2 separate regions of the Homo sapiens genome follow, and region 2 is linked to region 1. The links come from fine-mapping of genetic effects on gene expression. A gene starts in region 1. The other region holds a variant in brackets. All regions are shown on one strand. Distances are between the middles of the regions. Region 1 holds the start of PAH (phenylalanine hydroxylase). Region 2 holds the start of ASCL1 (achaete-scute family bHLH transcription factor 1).

What was found.
Region 2: its variant is fine-mapped to the expression of PAH in prefrontal cortex (BrainSeq, PIP 0.95).

Annotation. Positions count from the first base shown.
Region 1 is chr12:102,913,951-102,921,950 of GRCh38, forward strand. It overlaps PAH (phenylalanine hydroxylase), which reads right to left and starts at 3,294. Exons shown (of 13, transcript NM_000277.3): 1 at 3,121-3,294. The coding sequence starts at 3,180.
Region 2 is chr12:102,953,883-102,962,438 of GRCh38, forward strand. It overlaps ASCL1 (achaete-scute family bHLH transcription factor 1), which reads left to right and starts at 3,792. Exons shown (of 2, transcript NM_004316.4): 1 at 3,792-5,120; 2 at 5,480-6,631. The coding sequence starts at 4,363. The coding sequence ends at 5,073. It also overlaps a transcript of PAH not described here. RefSeq lists enhancers at 4,259-4,790, 4,791-5,322, 6,668-8,556 and a silencer at 4,429-4,498. The variant T/C (reference allele first, on the strand shown) is at 4,166.

The DNA.
Region 1 (8,000 bases):
TGCAGAACAATTACTCTCTTGTAAGCAAGTTAATGAAATTAATGGAATAGATGTTACATCATCTCAATGAGAGAAGGCTGTGTTAGGAAACTCTTAGTGACTCAGAATAACAAGCCCTGCATGAATACTGATGACCCTTAGCAAAAAATTCTTTCAATTCAGAAAATTCAGATTTTTGCCAAAACATCCCATGAAACTGAGGTGTGAAGGAAAAAACAAATTTATCAGCAAGAGTGATTTTAGGGAGCTTCAAATGAAATGGAAGACTAAACTGTTAAATATCCCATTTTGATCATGATGTTATCTTTCTAAAAAACTTCATTTATTTAGAGCCTATATAAACATTTATTTAGAGCCTATAATTTCTGGGTATTATAATAAGCACTTGATTTGGATTATCTCATGTAATTTGGCAACAACCTAAGAGGTAGGTTTTATTAGGCACCAAGTGCCCCCTTTTATTGATGACAAGATTAAGGCTTAGAGAGGTTAAGGAACTTGCCTATAGTTACACAGTTAGCAGTGGAGCCAGGATCTGAACCCAGGTCATTTGATCTCTGCATACTGTCCATGAATCACAATCTCTTGCAGCCTCTATTCCTCTTCCCCCTTTTAAACCCTGCCAGAGAGGTACAGATGAGTCTCTGACTTAAGTCTTCTTCCTACTAAAGAATACTGAGCCTTCTTCTTTCCAGTTTCCTTGAAATGACAAAAGATATTCCTGTCTCTAGTTCACTTGGTAGCACTCTTTTCTCCTGTTGGCTTCCAAGAAAAGTAAGATATTTCTGATACACATCCACAGATGCCACTTTTGACTAGGGCAATTCAGACTTGAATGTACCTGGGCTTGAAGTTGAGTCACCCCCTAAACCCCACCCCACTACAGTGTGTGTTCAGCCAATCACAAGTCTGATCTCATCTTCTCCAGAAATGCCTCTGGGCATCAGGTCCTTTCTTCCCACTGCCATCACCTGAATCCATTTCTTAGTGGCCTGCATCGATCCAGCCTGACATTTTTACTCTTGTCCTTCTATTTAGAATCCCTCAAACGCTCCATCCCCATGGCTTCTTGCTGATGTTTGGCAGTTTCTGTGGTACCGAATCTCTGGAGGCCCACCTACAGGAACCTCCTTTCCAGCCAAGCTGCTTTCTTTCTTGCCTTTTTAGCTCCTCATTAGAGTATTCACCAAATTTCCCTTTCCAAGATCTCACCTTCCTTAAAGGCTCTTTTGGGTCTCAATTCTCTTAGGAAATGTTTGTTCCCCTCAGCCCAGGTGCACAATCACTTCTTTATCTATGCTTTCCACTTGGCATTTGATGCCCACATGGTATTTCATAATAATTGACTCACAGAAATTGATTTGTCCTTAGTGCTCATCTAGTTAAACTCCCTTACATTACAGATGGGGAAAACTTAGAGCCAAAGGGAGAAAATAACTCACCTGAGGCCACATAGGTAGTGGAGGCTGGTCAAGAACTCAGGCTCCTAATTATCAATTTTTCTACATAATTCCCTTTGCTATGGACATAATATGGGAATTTAGTCCTGTTTCTTGCAAAGTAAAAGATTTACTCTGGTCCAGTCACCAGACAGTTAGTCAATAGCACTCCTAACAGCCTATATTTCACCATGCTGATCCCCCTTCACTTGCTCCATTTCTCTCCATGCACTTTGTAAATCAGTGTTTCTCAATGAGTGTTCCTTGGATCTTGACTCCAAAATTACAGGTGATTCCTTCTTATAATGCAGTTCCCTGGGCTTTACCTAAACCTGTTGAATCAAGTTGTCTTAGAATCTGCCATTTCAAAACCATCCCAGGTGATTCTTAACCATAGAAAATTTTGGAACCATTGATATATATACAGCCTATTTTTTTAATTATAACTTTTCCCTAAATGTGTCTGCAAATTCACATTTACTATATAACACGACACTACTTTGTTTGTTATTAATATAATTTGTGGATTCTCAATCTTCTAAGTGCTCTATAAAGAACTTTAAACCCCTATGCTTTCCTGATGAGATCCCTGCCCCTAACCCCTTCCCACAGTTGTGGGGACCGTATTGCCAGCAGCACCAAAACTATGTGCAGGATGGAGCCAGGACCTGTTCTGGGATCACTCTGACTCTCACGCTGTTCCTCTGTACAATAAGTTCTGTCTCCTAAGAGCCATGTACTATTTTCATAAGAAATTTTTTTTTTTAAGGATTCAAATAAAAATCAGTCCTAAGTTCTGCAGTCTTTCTAGTTATATTAACGTTAACATTAACCATTCTTTTCTCTCCAGCCTCCCTGTTTTCTACTGAGAACTCTTCTCCCTAATCCTACTGATGACAGGGGCCTGCAGACTTACATTATTTCCCTGGCCTGGGCTTTATGACTGAATCTCAAGAGTCCAGGAGCAGACTTCCTCCCATGGGTAAATATGTAGGTCACATTAAAGAATGTATTCTGCAATTCTTCACCTCAAGAAAATGCCAACAAATCCCGGAGAATGGAATATACCTTGGGCATTATTTCCAAGTCACGTTTAGGGTTCTTTCACATTCCATGCCCAGGGCTAACTCTTGGTCATTTTCCTCTCTGCTTAGTTTCTGCCTCCCCTGGTCTGAGTAAGTTTCTGTCTGAATTCTCTTCATGCCTCATCTTCTTCCCAAAATGAAAGGAGGATAGTTACTCACAATTTTGCCATTTTGATACCTTGCTGAGAGCACTTTATAAATATTACAAAAGAAATCTAGAAGGATTCCACATCCCATCCCAGATCATTAGGGACCAGCCCCTTCAGTGTACAGAAGAGTAAACAGACAACAGAGAGGGACAGTAACTTGTCCAAAGACACACAGCTAATTGGTGGCAGTTCTGGAGGCCAGATCCCCAACCCCCTAAAGCAATGGTCATTCATTCCTGTGAAAGCCACCGAGGACAGATGTTCTCCTACTTAGAAACAATTGTTGAGGACATTTGTCTGTTGACTTCCTGGATATTCTCATCAGCTTCCAACGAATTCAGACTTCTTACTGAGCTTATGAAACCAGGAAGCACCAGCAGTCTTCGGATCTCTTTCTCTGGAGGCCCAAATTCCCCTAACTGAGCAGCTCAGGCTGCCGTGGCTCACCTGTCCAAAGTCAGAGAGTTTCCTGCCCAAGCCTGGGTTTTCCAGGACCGCAGTGGACATGCTGGCTCCCCGGGAGTGAGGTCTCTGGCTTTTTAGGGCCTCAGGTACAGGCAGGTTTGCAAACAGCACGTGGGGCTGAAGGTTTTAACCTCGCACTAGGGAGGAGAAGAGAGTTACAAAGGGTGTCTCTTGCGTGGTGCATCTCCGCACAGTAACGCCCCTCGTGGGCGTTGTCCTGACGCAGGAGGCCAGGGCAGCCTGCCGGATGCTCCAGGTCACCTGCCCAGGACGGGCCGGAGGGGAGGGGCTGAGGGAGGGTGTGGGGGACGCAGGAGGCACCACTTCGCTGCCCGCCCTGGGTAAAGGGAAGAAGCCAGGGAGCGACGGGCCACCCAAGCCCCGTCGATTAGACAGGTTTAGGCACTTCCGGGACTCTCAGAAGCCTGGGAAGCGAGTTCTCTGCAATTGGACTAAGCCTGCGACCGTCTGGTATAACAATTATATGAATAATCCGCCCCCCTTACCCCCAGCTGAAACAGTCAGGATTCTCATTTAGATTTTTGTTGTTGTTGTTTTCCCTTCTGTTAACCTCTAAGCACACTGCCTTGCTGTGCGCTGACTTCAGAAAACTACAGCTAGAGGGCACGTGAACGCTGAGCACAGCAGGTAAAGAGCAAATGTAAGAGCGATCTGGGTTTAAATCCAGCCTGGTGTTCTCCAGCTATTCGCACAACTGCTCCTGAAGCTCGGAAAAGAGGGTGGTAGAGCCACCTTGCTGGAAGGTTTTAAGAATAGGAATAAAGAAATGCATTAAAATTTAGTACAGTTCTTCCACATAAACACTCAGTAAATGGAAGATATTGTTTAAAAGCAAATCCACATAAATTTGACAATAATTACTGAGACCTGTACCGTGTGCTTGGTGGTGTTCTAGTCTTTGGGAATACAGCAATGAACAAAACAGACTCTGCCTCCCCAGCTATGCTGCCATTCTGGTGGGCAGAAAATAAACATATAAATAAGTTTAGGTAGGGCTAAGTCTTTTGAAGAAAGTAAAGTAGGGGGATGGTCTATGAGTGAGCTGGTGGGATTTGGCCAGTGGTCTTCAAATAGTCAGGAAGATGCCATTAACCACACTTTTAGAGAAGACTGAGGGTGAGGCATTACTGACCAGGAGGTAAAACAAAGTATAAAAGAATGCTGGAAAGCAGGTTCAGAGGTTCAGAAAGGATGTGAAAACTCAGGGGCCTCAAGCCTTGAGTGCCTGCTTAATATTTTCCCAAGAGAAAGTAATGGGCTGTAAGAAAATAAGCCAATAATAAAGGTTGCTGGAAGCCCATCCCTCTCCTCCCACTGTTCTTTGACCAAGCATCTGAAAATAAATAAACAAATAAATAAATAAATAAGTAAAATAAAACTCAGGTTTAGGATTCAAAACAAGTGGTTTAACTCTTGGTTCTACCACTGATTTGGTCAAGCCCATGCCTCAGTTTTTTTTTGTTTTTTTTTTTTGTTTTGTTTTTGTCTTTAAAATGAGAATTTTAAGGGATATTTAGGATTCCTTAAGCCTTTATGATGTGCCAGGCTGTCTACTGTCTGCTAAGAATACAGATATAACAAGTGCAATTTCTGTCCAAAAGGAACCTTTAGGGGCCTGATGAATATTTCCCATAGTAAGTTGGAAGCTCAATGTTGTTAAATATTGAAGGCGAAGATCTTGATTTCCATCCTCAGGAGAATCTGTATTCTTTATCTGACTCCGGCATTTTTCAGTGTAGTAGACATAAAACATGTTGTATTCCTCAGCCTCAGGATTTTCTTACAAACATAATTTCATCCCTTGATGCTACTTGAGGGCAATGAATGTGACAACTCCAAAAATATTACAGGCATGCAATAAAGAAAAGCAAAGAATATTATCTACTTATTTGCATGCACACTCTGTCTTAGACACTGTGCCACGCTCTCCACGTGCATGGTTTCACTTCTTCCTCTTAACAATCCCATGAACTATGCACTCCCTTTTAATAGGCAAGAAACTGAGGCCTAGGAAGTTTAAACAAATGGCCCAAATTCAATCTATGTTTCACCCAACACCAAGGCACTGCACTGGCTCTCAAATACTTTTGCTTTCCTGTTTGAAATGAGGACAACATAATTTTTAGGACAACAAAATGATAGCTTTTCTTTCTTCTCCCCATAACAGCTGAAAATGCAACTCTTTTTTCTAATGTTTAATTTTTGTGGGAACATAGTAGATGTATGCATTCATGGAGTATGTGCAATATTTTGATACAGGCATGCAATGTGTAATAATCACATCATTGAAAATGGGGCATCCATCCCCTCAAGCATTTATCTTTTGTGTTGCAAACAAGCCAATTATACTCTTTCAGGTATTTTTAAATGTATAATTAAATTATTTTGACTATATTCGCCCTGTTGTACTATCAAATACTAGGTCTTATTCATTCTTTCTATATTTTTTTGTACCTATTAACCATCTCCACCTCCCCTCCAGGCCCCTACTACCCTTCCCCACCTCTGGTAATTAGCTCTCTACTCTCTAGCTCCATGAATCAGATTGTTTTGATTTTTAGACCCCACATATGAGTGAGAATATGTGATGTTTGGCTTTCTGTGCCTGGCTTATTTCATTTGACATAATGACCTCCAGTTCTGTCCATGTTATTGCAAATAACAGGATCTCATTCTTTTTTATTGCTGAATAGTACTCCATTGTGTATTAAAGTACCACATTTTTTTAAAACCCATGTTGATGGAGACTTGGGTTGCTTCCAGATCTTGGCTATTGTGAACAGTGCTGCAACAAACATAAAAGAACAGACATCTCTTTGATATACTGATTTCCTTTCTTATAGGTATATACCCAGCAGTGGGATCACTAGATCATATAGTAGCTCTATTTTTAGTTTTTTGGGGAACTGCCAAACTGTTCTCCATAGTGGTTGTACAAAAATGGAATTTTTAATCCTATCTCACATAAAAATGCCCTAAATCTAGGTTGAGAGGAAAGCACATCATTGCTATCTGAGAGAAGAAAAACTAATCGCTTCTTTAAAAAAAATTATTCTGGCAAAAAGGAAAAATTTATTTATGCACTAAGATAAAAATAAGAGATTGCTTGTGCCATAAACTTGCAGATGATTTTTAAGCCACCTTTTTGTTCAATTTGGTTGGAATGCAATGTGCTGCTATAATGAGAGCAGTGCTGGGTGCTAAGGAAATGGAGGAAAAAAAGGCACATCTAGAAGAAGCATCCACAGTCAGTCAGTAGACCACTGAGGTATTTTTTAACACTGCACAGAGGTGGGGAACATGTCACAAGATGAGAAGTTGTGTACTTGGCAAACTTAGAGCTGACCTTTGCTGATTTGGAAGTTGAAGATTACCCAACCATTGCAGGTTTATCAGTTCTTTCTTGTTTATCTTCATGTGCAGAAGGTTGAGTTAATCATAATCCATGAGTTCATGGCACAGAAACAAAACCTACATGACCCTTCTCTTGTTTTTTTATTCATTCTCTTTTATCATAATTCCTCACTCTCACTGCCTTTCCCCAGAGGCAACTTCTCTAATATGATGTTTAGCCTTGAACTTGTAAAATACATAGAAATGTTTGTGCGTATATGTATTTTTCATGGATATGTGATGTGGCACTATAGATTTACTACAATCTATGGATGTACTATAGATTTCATAGTTTCTTTTTTCTTTCAACTGTGTTCTTAGGATCCAGCCATGCTGCTGAATATGTATCTAGTTCTTTGCTTTTCTAAATGGTTCAGAATATCCCAGTGTGTATTTGCCACACTTGACTTCTTTATTTTCCAGTTATGGACATCTAAGTCATTGCTAATTTTTCACCACCCCAAACAATACTGTGATAAATTTCCTTATCTTTCTTCCCTTATAGGCCTGGGGTAGAAATTTTCTGGGATAGAAGAGTGGTGCTATTATGAATCATAGGGAACATGCACTCTTAATTTCACAAAGTGCTGCCAGATTGCCCTTTAGAGTGGCTTGGACCAGTCTACACACCAACCAGCAGGCAAAAGAGTTCCTATTGGTGGGTATACCTAATATGTGGTATTCTCCAAAGGTCAGAATTTTTGCCAATCTGATCAGCATAAGCTGGTGTCTTGTTGTTTTTAATTTGAATTTCTCTCATAACTCATGAGTTTGAGCATCTCTTTATATACTTATACCTCTTAGATTTCCCATGCTATGAATAGTTTATCATCATATTTTCTACCCATTTTCTACTAGGATTCCTGTCTTGTAGATTTGTTGCAATAATTTCTGTTAGCTCTGTGTCCAAATATTAGCTCTGTGCCCTTCTCAGTCACTGAACACATTGCCTCCCAATGTGTCACTGTCAGTTAATTGTCAACTGGTGTCCTTCCTTGATTAAACAATAAAACAAGTAATTTTGAAATAACAAGTCCATCCTTTTAAAAATTTTTGTGGTTTGTACTATAGAGTATTGTTTAAGAAGTCCTTCCCCATCCCAAAGTTCCAAAGAGGTGCTCTTCTCTCTAGCATCTAGATCTATCATAGCTAGATCTTTAATCTACCTGCATTGTAGATATACCTGTACATGCCTTGGGGATTTCTTAGAGGCTTTTCAACATGGTCCCACAGTCCAGGTAATACCACTTAACTTAAAGAGGCCAATCCCACAATCAATTGTCTTTTGGGATTTTCTCACCATAGAGCCTATTTTAACTTTCCGCTAGATATATAGATCAAATTTTCTTTCTCTGATTTGAAAGTTATCCCTTATATTTTAATTTTTTTGCTGTATTTTTATTTTTTTGCTCCAAGTTATATAATTTTTTCCTTTTAGATATAACTTT
Region 2 (8,556 bases), 40 kb after region 1:
CTTGCAAAGCAAATTACCCAACAACATCTGATTTAATTCTCATAACACCCTTGACATACAGGCAAAGGGAGTACTACCACCTCATTTATGAATGAAGGTATCAAACCTTCCTTTTGTGAGTTGTTTACTTCTCCCTTCATGTGAAGATAAATGGGACATTGTTCAAGTGTCTTAGCCAACTAAAGCCCTAAGGACTTGCTCAGAATCAGGCCCACTGTGTGGCAAGGGAGCCAAGAAAGCAGGGCCCAGTGGCTCTGCTGAAGCCCCTTGCATGTGGAGGCCACAGAACATCTCTATAGTCTATCTTACTTGCTACTTTTCATGTCTAAAAATCGGGTTACTATCTCCATCATCTTAATATGCCAGTATCACCACCATTTCTCAAAAATGACAGGAATGACTCACCCCTAGGTGCTGGGACAGTGAGACAGAGTGGCACTGGATCTCCATTGGCTGGAGTGATGATCACAGAGTGGTTCCAGGAAGCCAAGTGCTGAGGCTCCTCCTGCCACACACCCTTTCCTGGGTGGGTTGTGTGAGCATGACTTTCTTATTAATCCCTTTCTCTTTAGACCTGGGCTAGAGTGCTCTACATACATATCATTGAAGTCTCACAACTCTTGGAGGTAGATACTATAATTACTGGCATAGGTGAAATAGAGACCCCTAGAGTGTCTCAGGGTCACACAGCTCTCAGGTAAAGGGGCCTAGATACCAAGTCAAATCAGCCTGCTTTATCTGGAATTCCATGGGCCTAGGAGAGCAGAACATGTGGCCAGTTCTCTCAGGTCGGGAGGAGGGATTATAATCTAGGTCACACAGTCAGAGGCAGGATTCTAATTTTGGCTCCTGAGCCTCCCATCTTTTGCTTCACACTGGTGAAAACAACCAGAAAGCCAATATCAATGGAAAACTCTCTTGGTAGAATCCCCAAGGATAGAAATGCAAACCTCTAAAGAAAAATTATAGACTGTTCTACCCTAGGGTTGGAGGAGAAAGTGGAGATGACAGTGTTGAGGTGCAAACTCCAGGTTTACTTGAGTGGGGGGAGGAGAACGCCTCGGTTCTTGGAAGGCTTTGCAAAGCATGTAAGGAAGAAAACTTAGCATACTAGGGTGAGAAGAGTGAGGTCAGGCTCAGGGCTGGCATAGGGAGAATAGAGACAAATGTTCTGGCGGTTTTGGCCAGAAGGATCCCAGCAACGACTGTCCTTCCTCCTGGCCTGAGGCCAATGAGTAAGGCCACTACAAGACAAGGCTTCTTCACTACAATGCACTTCCACTCCATTTGGGCACCCATTTCATGGTGTGTGTAGGGGGGAGGAGGAGAGGAGGTTCTGTCCTCTACTTCCCTGGTATTGAGATCTCTGTGTATGCATCCTGGAAAAGGAAACACGTGCTGGCTACCAGCAAATTTTCTAAGCTGTTAGATACAAGTTTCAAAATTAGCTACTGTACATCCCTTGTGTGTAGATCAGAAAACTGAGGCCAGTAGAGGCAGAGGGACTTGTTCAAGGTTATAAGGCACCATTGTGGTAGAGCTCAGACTCGGGACCTTTGTGAAGTGAGTCCAAGTTAGTAGGGAGTTTGGGGCTCATGTTTCAGCTTAATGTAAAAGAAAACACATCTAGATGCTTCCACATTTGCGACACTCCCTCCCACCCCCAACACTCAACTATTTGGCTGAAATAGAGTGAATGGGGCATTAGGACACAGCTGGGTCATGTGGGAGGTGGGTAAGGAGTGCCTGAATAATTCCTATTTCTGCAAGTGGTCTGAGGCTTACTCTGGCTGGGAGGTGCAGGGTGCCCAGGCTGTGTTGTGACTCTGCTTTTGGGTGCTCACCTCCTATACTTCCAGAGACCTCTTAGGCCCTTTCCTTGGTCAGGGATGTGGAGAAAGGCCTGAGGTGTGAATCCCACGGGGTTCAGCCAGTCCTGTGAGGCCATCAAGCCACAGGTTACCATGGGGAGAAGGGGCTGTGTGGCTGGGAAAGGTTACAGAATTGACCTCTGTTGGCACGATTTGGTCCTATACCTCTGAAGCCTACCTATTCTGCAAAGATGAAACTGAGGTAGAGAAGAGAGGTGATTCACTTCGGGAGCCGCCCGTCATTACTGCCCACCATCATCACTATTGTTCCAGAAACACTCAGCCAGCCCACATACCAAGAGCAGCTCCCTGGGTCATCCCCTTGGCCCTTTAGAAAGATCCACCTCCACAAAGGGGAGTTCAATTAGAACCAATTATCCGGATAATTCACCACAATCATTCCTGCACCCAGATCTCGGATTATTTCTACTGGAAAATCAAATGGATGATTGCCCTCCACTTCGTTCTGCCTATGTAGACAAGACCTGAGACATGCCCCAGCCTCTCTCCGGACCAGATCCTTAAAGAGATGGGGCCTATTGCTTGGTCTGCTTTCTCCGCAGCGCCGCGTCCCCAGACGTCCTGAAGCTGGACGGGGTTCTGGCCAGAGAGCGCCAGGGCCGAAGGCCCAGGAAGGACGCCTGGGCAGGCGCTGTCCAAGCGGTCGAGCGACGGCTGCAAGCGCCTCCCCCTCCCTCTCGGCGCCAGCACGCGGCCCCGCCGGGCTCCGCTCCCAGTCGCCTGCCACCGGGCCGCCGGGCACACGCCTGGGGCGGGATGGTGGCTGCGCCAAGGCCGCCGAGGTGCCCGCGGCGGCGCCGAAGAACCAGGAATCCCCACCAGTGCCCTAAGCGCCATCACTCAACCCCCGCCCCGCATCTTTCTTCTCCGAGGGTCTGGGAGTATCCCAGAGCACTCCCTTCTTTATGATATCCGCTAAGCTGGTCCGGAAATAATCTTTATGGGGAGGGGGTGGCGGTAGGGGGCGATGGTACAGGGGGCCAGAGGTCATCCTAGGGGGACGTCCCTGCCATATACACCCACCTACAGGACGGCTCACAACCACTCCTCGGTGTCGCTTCCCCGCGGCCCCCCACACACTTGCTCAGTTATGGGGAGCACATCCTAGTTTTTAGAGCTGAATGGGACATTAGAGACCATATTCTGTGGCTGCAGACGAGGAAGCGAAGGCTCAGAGAGGATGCCACTTCGAGGAGCCACAGAGCATTGAGAGGACGCCTTGGGACTAGAACCCACGTTTTCACATAGTCCAGCACTTTTTTTCACTGTTCTGGACGGAGTCCCTCCCCCAACCATGTTTCTAAACTTCAATCGTAATTTGCTCCAATTTCTAGGGTCACCGAGGAACCCGAAGAGAATAACAGTGAGGAGAGAGAGAAAACAGGAAAAGTCGAGCCCCACTCCCTCCTCACCTCCACACCGTTCCTGTGCCATTTTTTCTGCCCAAACCCTTCCCTGCGCTTTGCTTCAAGTTCTTAGTAGAATCCAAGAGAGCTTCACCCCAAGTCTTTCCACCTATACACCTCAATTCCTAGAGCCATTTGTCCCTCCTGTGACGCCCCCCACCCCCTTCCTAAAGCCACCCCCGGCAGCAGCCCGCCCCGAGCGCGCCGCCTGTTTATTCAGCCGGGAGTCCGGCACGCGCCAGGCGCACGCACTGCAACAACAAACCCAGCTGAATGGAGAGTTTGCAAGGAGCGGGAGAAAGGAACGGGAGGGGGGGAGAGGAGAGGAGGAGGGGGAGTTTAGGGAGTGGGTGGGAGGAAGAGGTAAGAGGAGGGGGGGGAGTGGGGGCTGCAGCCGCTCGCTGCAGCAGCGGGGAGTGGGGGGCGAGGCGGGGCCAGGGCTGCGCGTGGGGCTGGGTGTCCCATTGAAAAGGCGGACGCACTCCGGCAGCCCAGCACTCTCTCACTTCTGGCCAGGGAACGTGGAAGGCGCACCGACAGGGATCCGGCCAGGGAGGGCGAGTGAAAGAAGGAAATCAGAAAGGAAGGGAGTTAACAAAATAATAAAAACAGCCTGAGCCACGGCTGGAGAGACCGAGACCCGGCGCAAGAGAGCGCAGCCTTAGTAGGAGAGGAACGCGAGACGCGGCAGAGCGCGTTCAGCACTGACTTTTGCTGCTGCTTCTGCTTTTTTTTTTCTTAGAAACAAGAAGGCGCCAGCGGCAGCCTCACACGCGAGCGCCACGCGAGGCTCCCGAAGCCAACCCGCGAAGGGAGGAGGGGAGGGAGGAGGAGGCGGCGTGCAGGGAGGAGAAAAAGCATTTTCAC[T/C]TTTTTTGCTCCCACTCTAAGAAGTCTCCCGGGGATTTTGTATATATTTTTTAACTTCCGTCAGGGCTCCCGCTTCATATTTCCTTTTCTTTCCCTCTCTGTTCCTGCACCCAAGTTCTCTCTGTGTCCCCCTCGCGGGCCCCGCACCTCGCGTCCCGGATCGCTCTGATTCCGCGACTCCTTGGCCGCCGCTGCGCATGGAAAGCTCTGCCAAGATGGAGAGCGGCGGCGCCGGCCAGCAGCCCCAGCCGCAGCCCCAGCAGCCCTTCCTGCCGCCCGCAGCCTGTTTCTTTGCCACGGCCGCAGCCGCGGCGGCCGCAGCCGCCGCAGCGGCAGCGCAGAGCGCGCAGCAGCAGCAGCAGCAGCAGCAGCAGCAGCAGCAGGCGCCGCAGCTGAGACCGGCGGCCGACGGCCAGCCCTCAGGGGGCGGTCACAAGTCAGCGCCCAAGCAAGTCAAGCGACAGCGCTCGTCTTCGCCCGAACTGATGCGCTGCAAACGCCGGCTCAACTTCAGCGGCTTTGGCTACAGCCTGCCGCAGCAGCAGCCGGCCGCCGTGGCGCGCCGCAACGAGCGCGAGCGCAACCGCGTCAAGTTGGTCAACCTGGGCTTTGCCACCCTTCGGGAGCACGTCCCCAACGGCGCGGCCAACAAGAAGATGAGTAAGGTGGAGACACTGCGCTCGGCGGTCGAGTACATCCGCGCGCTGCAGCAGCTGCTGGACGAGCATGACGCGGTGAGCGCCGCCTTCCAGGCAGGCGTCCTGTCGCCCACCATCTCCCCCAACTACTCCAACGACTTGAACTCCATGGCCGGCTCGCCGGTCTCATCCTACTCGTCGGACGAGGGCTCTTACGACCCGCTCAGCCCCGAGGAGCAGGAGCTTCTCGACTTCACCAACTGGTTCTGAGGGGCTCGGCCTGGTCAGGCCCTGGTGCGAATGGACTTTGGAAGCAGGTAGGTTGCATTTTGGGGTGGGCAGGGGGGTATTCTTGCCTTCGTCCTCCCTCTGAGTGTCTGTGGAAGTGGGGATGTCTCCAAGGAGATAAGGGGATTTTTATTTAAAGAATTTGTGAAAGTTGGTCGATTTCAAGTCCTAGTTTGTTAGTTTCAGCACTGGCCTCTGAAAATGGCCTTGCCCAGGTCTCCAAGGAGTGAAGGGTAGTAGTGAGGTGCAGAGATACTGGTGAACCGAATACTGGGACATGTTAAAAGAGATGTCTACCTGACAGACTCTTTCCCCAGACCTCCATCTCCCTCTACCACTAGCCTACACGTTCAAATTAACCTCTCCTGTTCTTTTCCTTATGTTATAGGGTGATCGCACAACCTGCATCTTTAGTGCTTTCTTGTCAGTGGCGTTGGGAGGGGGAGAAAAGGAAAAGAAAAAAAAAAGAAGAAGAAGAAGAAAAGAGAAGAAGAAAAAAACGAAAACAGTCAACCAACCCCATCGCCAACTAAGCGAGGCATGCCTGAGAGACATGGCTTTCAGAAAACGGGAAGCGCTCAGAACAGTATCTTTGCACTCCAATCATTCACGGAGATATGAAGAGCAACTGGGACCTGAGTCAATGCGCAAAATGCAGCTTGTGTGCAAAAGCAGTGGGCTCCTGGCAGAAGGGAGCAGCACACGCGTTATAGTAACTCCCATCACCTCTAACACGCACAGCTGAAAGTTCTTGCTCGGGTCCCTTCACCTCCTCGCCCTTTCTTAAAGTGCAGTTCTTAGCCCTCTAGAAACGAGTTGGTGTCTTTCGTCTCAGTAGCCCCCACCCCAATAAGCTGTAGACATTGGTTTACAGTGAAACTATGCTATTCTCAGCCCTTTGAAACTCTGCTTCTCCTCCAGGGCCCGATTCCCAAACCCCATGGCTTCCCTCACACTGTCTTTTCTACCATTTTCATTATAGAATGCTTCCAATCTTTTGTGAATTTTTTATTATAAAAAATCTATTTGTATCTATCCTAACCAGTTCGGGGATATATTAAGATATTTTTGTACATAAGAGAGAAAGAGAGAGAAAAATTTATAGAAGTTTTGTACAAATGGTTTAAAATGTGTATATCTTGATACTTTAACATGTAATGCTATTACCTCTGCATATTTTAGATGTGTAGTTCACCTTACAACTGCAATTTTCCCTATGTGGTTTTGTAAAGAACTCTCCTCATAGGTGAGATCAAGAGGCCACCAGTTGTACTTCAGCACCAATGTGTCTTACTTTATAGAAATGTTGTTAATGTATTAATGATGTTATTAAATACTGTTCAAGAAGAACAAAGTTTATGCAGCTACTGTCCAAACTCAAAGTGGCAGCCAGTTGGTTTTGATAGGTTGCCTTTTGGAGATTTCTATTACTGCCTTTTTTTTTCTTACTGTTTTATTACAAACTTACAAAAATATGTATAACCCTGTTTTATACAAACTAGTTTCGTAATAAAACTTTTTCCTTTTTTTAAAATGAAAATAATCAGCTGACTCTAAGCTTTCTTTGACTCTGATGCCCCTGGTCCAGTTTTATGAAAATGTCAAAGGGAAGAGGTGGATGGAGAAGAAAATGTTGCAAAACATGCTAAGTGGCAGAAATGACAATGATAAGTGCTATGGCCAGTCCCATCCAAATGGTTTCTTTATGATGAATGAGTGTGTGTTTGTGTGTGTGTGTGTGTGTGTGTGTATGTACATGTATATATGTTTTCTTTCTATCCTATGCTGCAAATGTACATGCCCACCAAAAAGAATAGATGGCTGCATTATCCTTTGATCAAAATTTAAAATCCCCCAAAAAAGTGAACCAGAAAGAGAGGGTCCTCCACCATTTTCCAATTCTCAACTCCATTCTGAGTTTCTCCCTGTGAAACTATGGTGGGGCTGGATGAAATAATGGAGACTAGGTCTGGGTGGGGAGGATGGTGGTTCTGGGATGGGGGTTGGAGAGGCATCCCTCTCCACATACAAGCTCCTAGTGGTGAGTATGTTTCTCTTCCCTCACTTCCAGGCATACATTTTCTACTCATTTTCTCCAATACACCTACTTGCTATATTGATTTTAAGTAAGAGGCATATATGATATGAATTCATTCCAAACGGATTGAGATTTTAATTAAAAAAACGCATTAGAAATGTGTGGTCGCTTTGAGACACTGGTCTATCTAAGCTTGTGACTCTATCCGAATAGCGTGAGCTGCGTGTAAAAGTACCCAATTACCAAGATTCAAAAAGAAATTGGTGGGTTTTTGGCTGGCTTGCTTCTTGTCAGTTAGCAAGGACGTGATTAGAATCCTACTCGGCCTCTCGCCGGCTCCTCGCTCGCCGCCTGCATTACTTGCAGATTCAGTTTGCGTGTCTCCAGCCAAGCGGAAAGCCGAGCGCAAAATGCATCTTACAAAACCCAACAAAGAACGGGTAGCCAGCACGTCTTCCAGAGTTAAAAATCTAGTCTGTGTTGGTACATCTATACCATTTAGTGGCACAGAATAATCATTTTTTAAAGCCACGATGCGCGGAGCACGCCACAGCGTCTGATGTCATTTTGCTAAATGACCCTCTATAGAATGCACATTGAGGCTTCAGTCCCTTTCAAAGAGATGAGCGTAATTAAGGAAAAAAAATCAGTAAATTCCTCATCGCCATAAATAATCGGACTTTCTGCCAGCAGTGGGCCAATTTAGAGCTTACTTGAGAGAAGTAATGCTTTTGTGATGCCTGCTTTTATTTTTATCTTCTCATTTGGAGGACCAGAGATGGGCTCCACCCCCACTCTCCATTTCTCTTTCCTTTAATTTAGCTCCTTTGCAAGATTCCAGATAAGGTATGCAAAGAAAGTGTAGCAAGTCATTTATGGCTATGAATATAACATTAGGATAATGTTTCAGCCCCCACAAAGGGGGATTTTTTTTTCCTTCTCCTGTGAGGACAGGTGTTCTTTACTCACTTCTGAATGGGAAATATCCAGTCTCGTTAAACTCGAGGCAAAGTTAGTCGTTGTTTGCCACAATGCGAAGGCAAACTCGAAAAATTCACAAAAACACACACAATTTTGCCTAAGCTAGGAAAGGGCAAAGCGAGGATTGGGCAAAATCTCATTACATCTGCTCTAATCGCTTAGCAACACAAAGCCGGGGCTTGTGCGGCGAAGGGAAGCCATTCACAGAGCTCTGACAGGCCGCATTCAGCGCGCGTTAGTCAGCTCCATAAATCACCGCTGCCCATTGGCTGCGCGGCGGGCTTTGGAGCGGCCCTGGGCTGTCAGCGAAATACAAAATGTAGACCCCAGAGGCTAGCAATAGTAGCCTCTCCCCCGTCTTAGCCCCCACCCATTTTTCTTTTCTTTCTTTCTTTCTTTCTTTCTTTCTTTCTTTCTTTCTTTCTTTCTTTCTTCCTTCCTTTCTT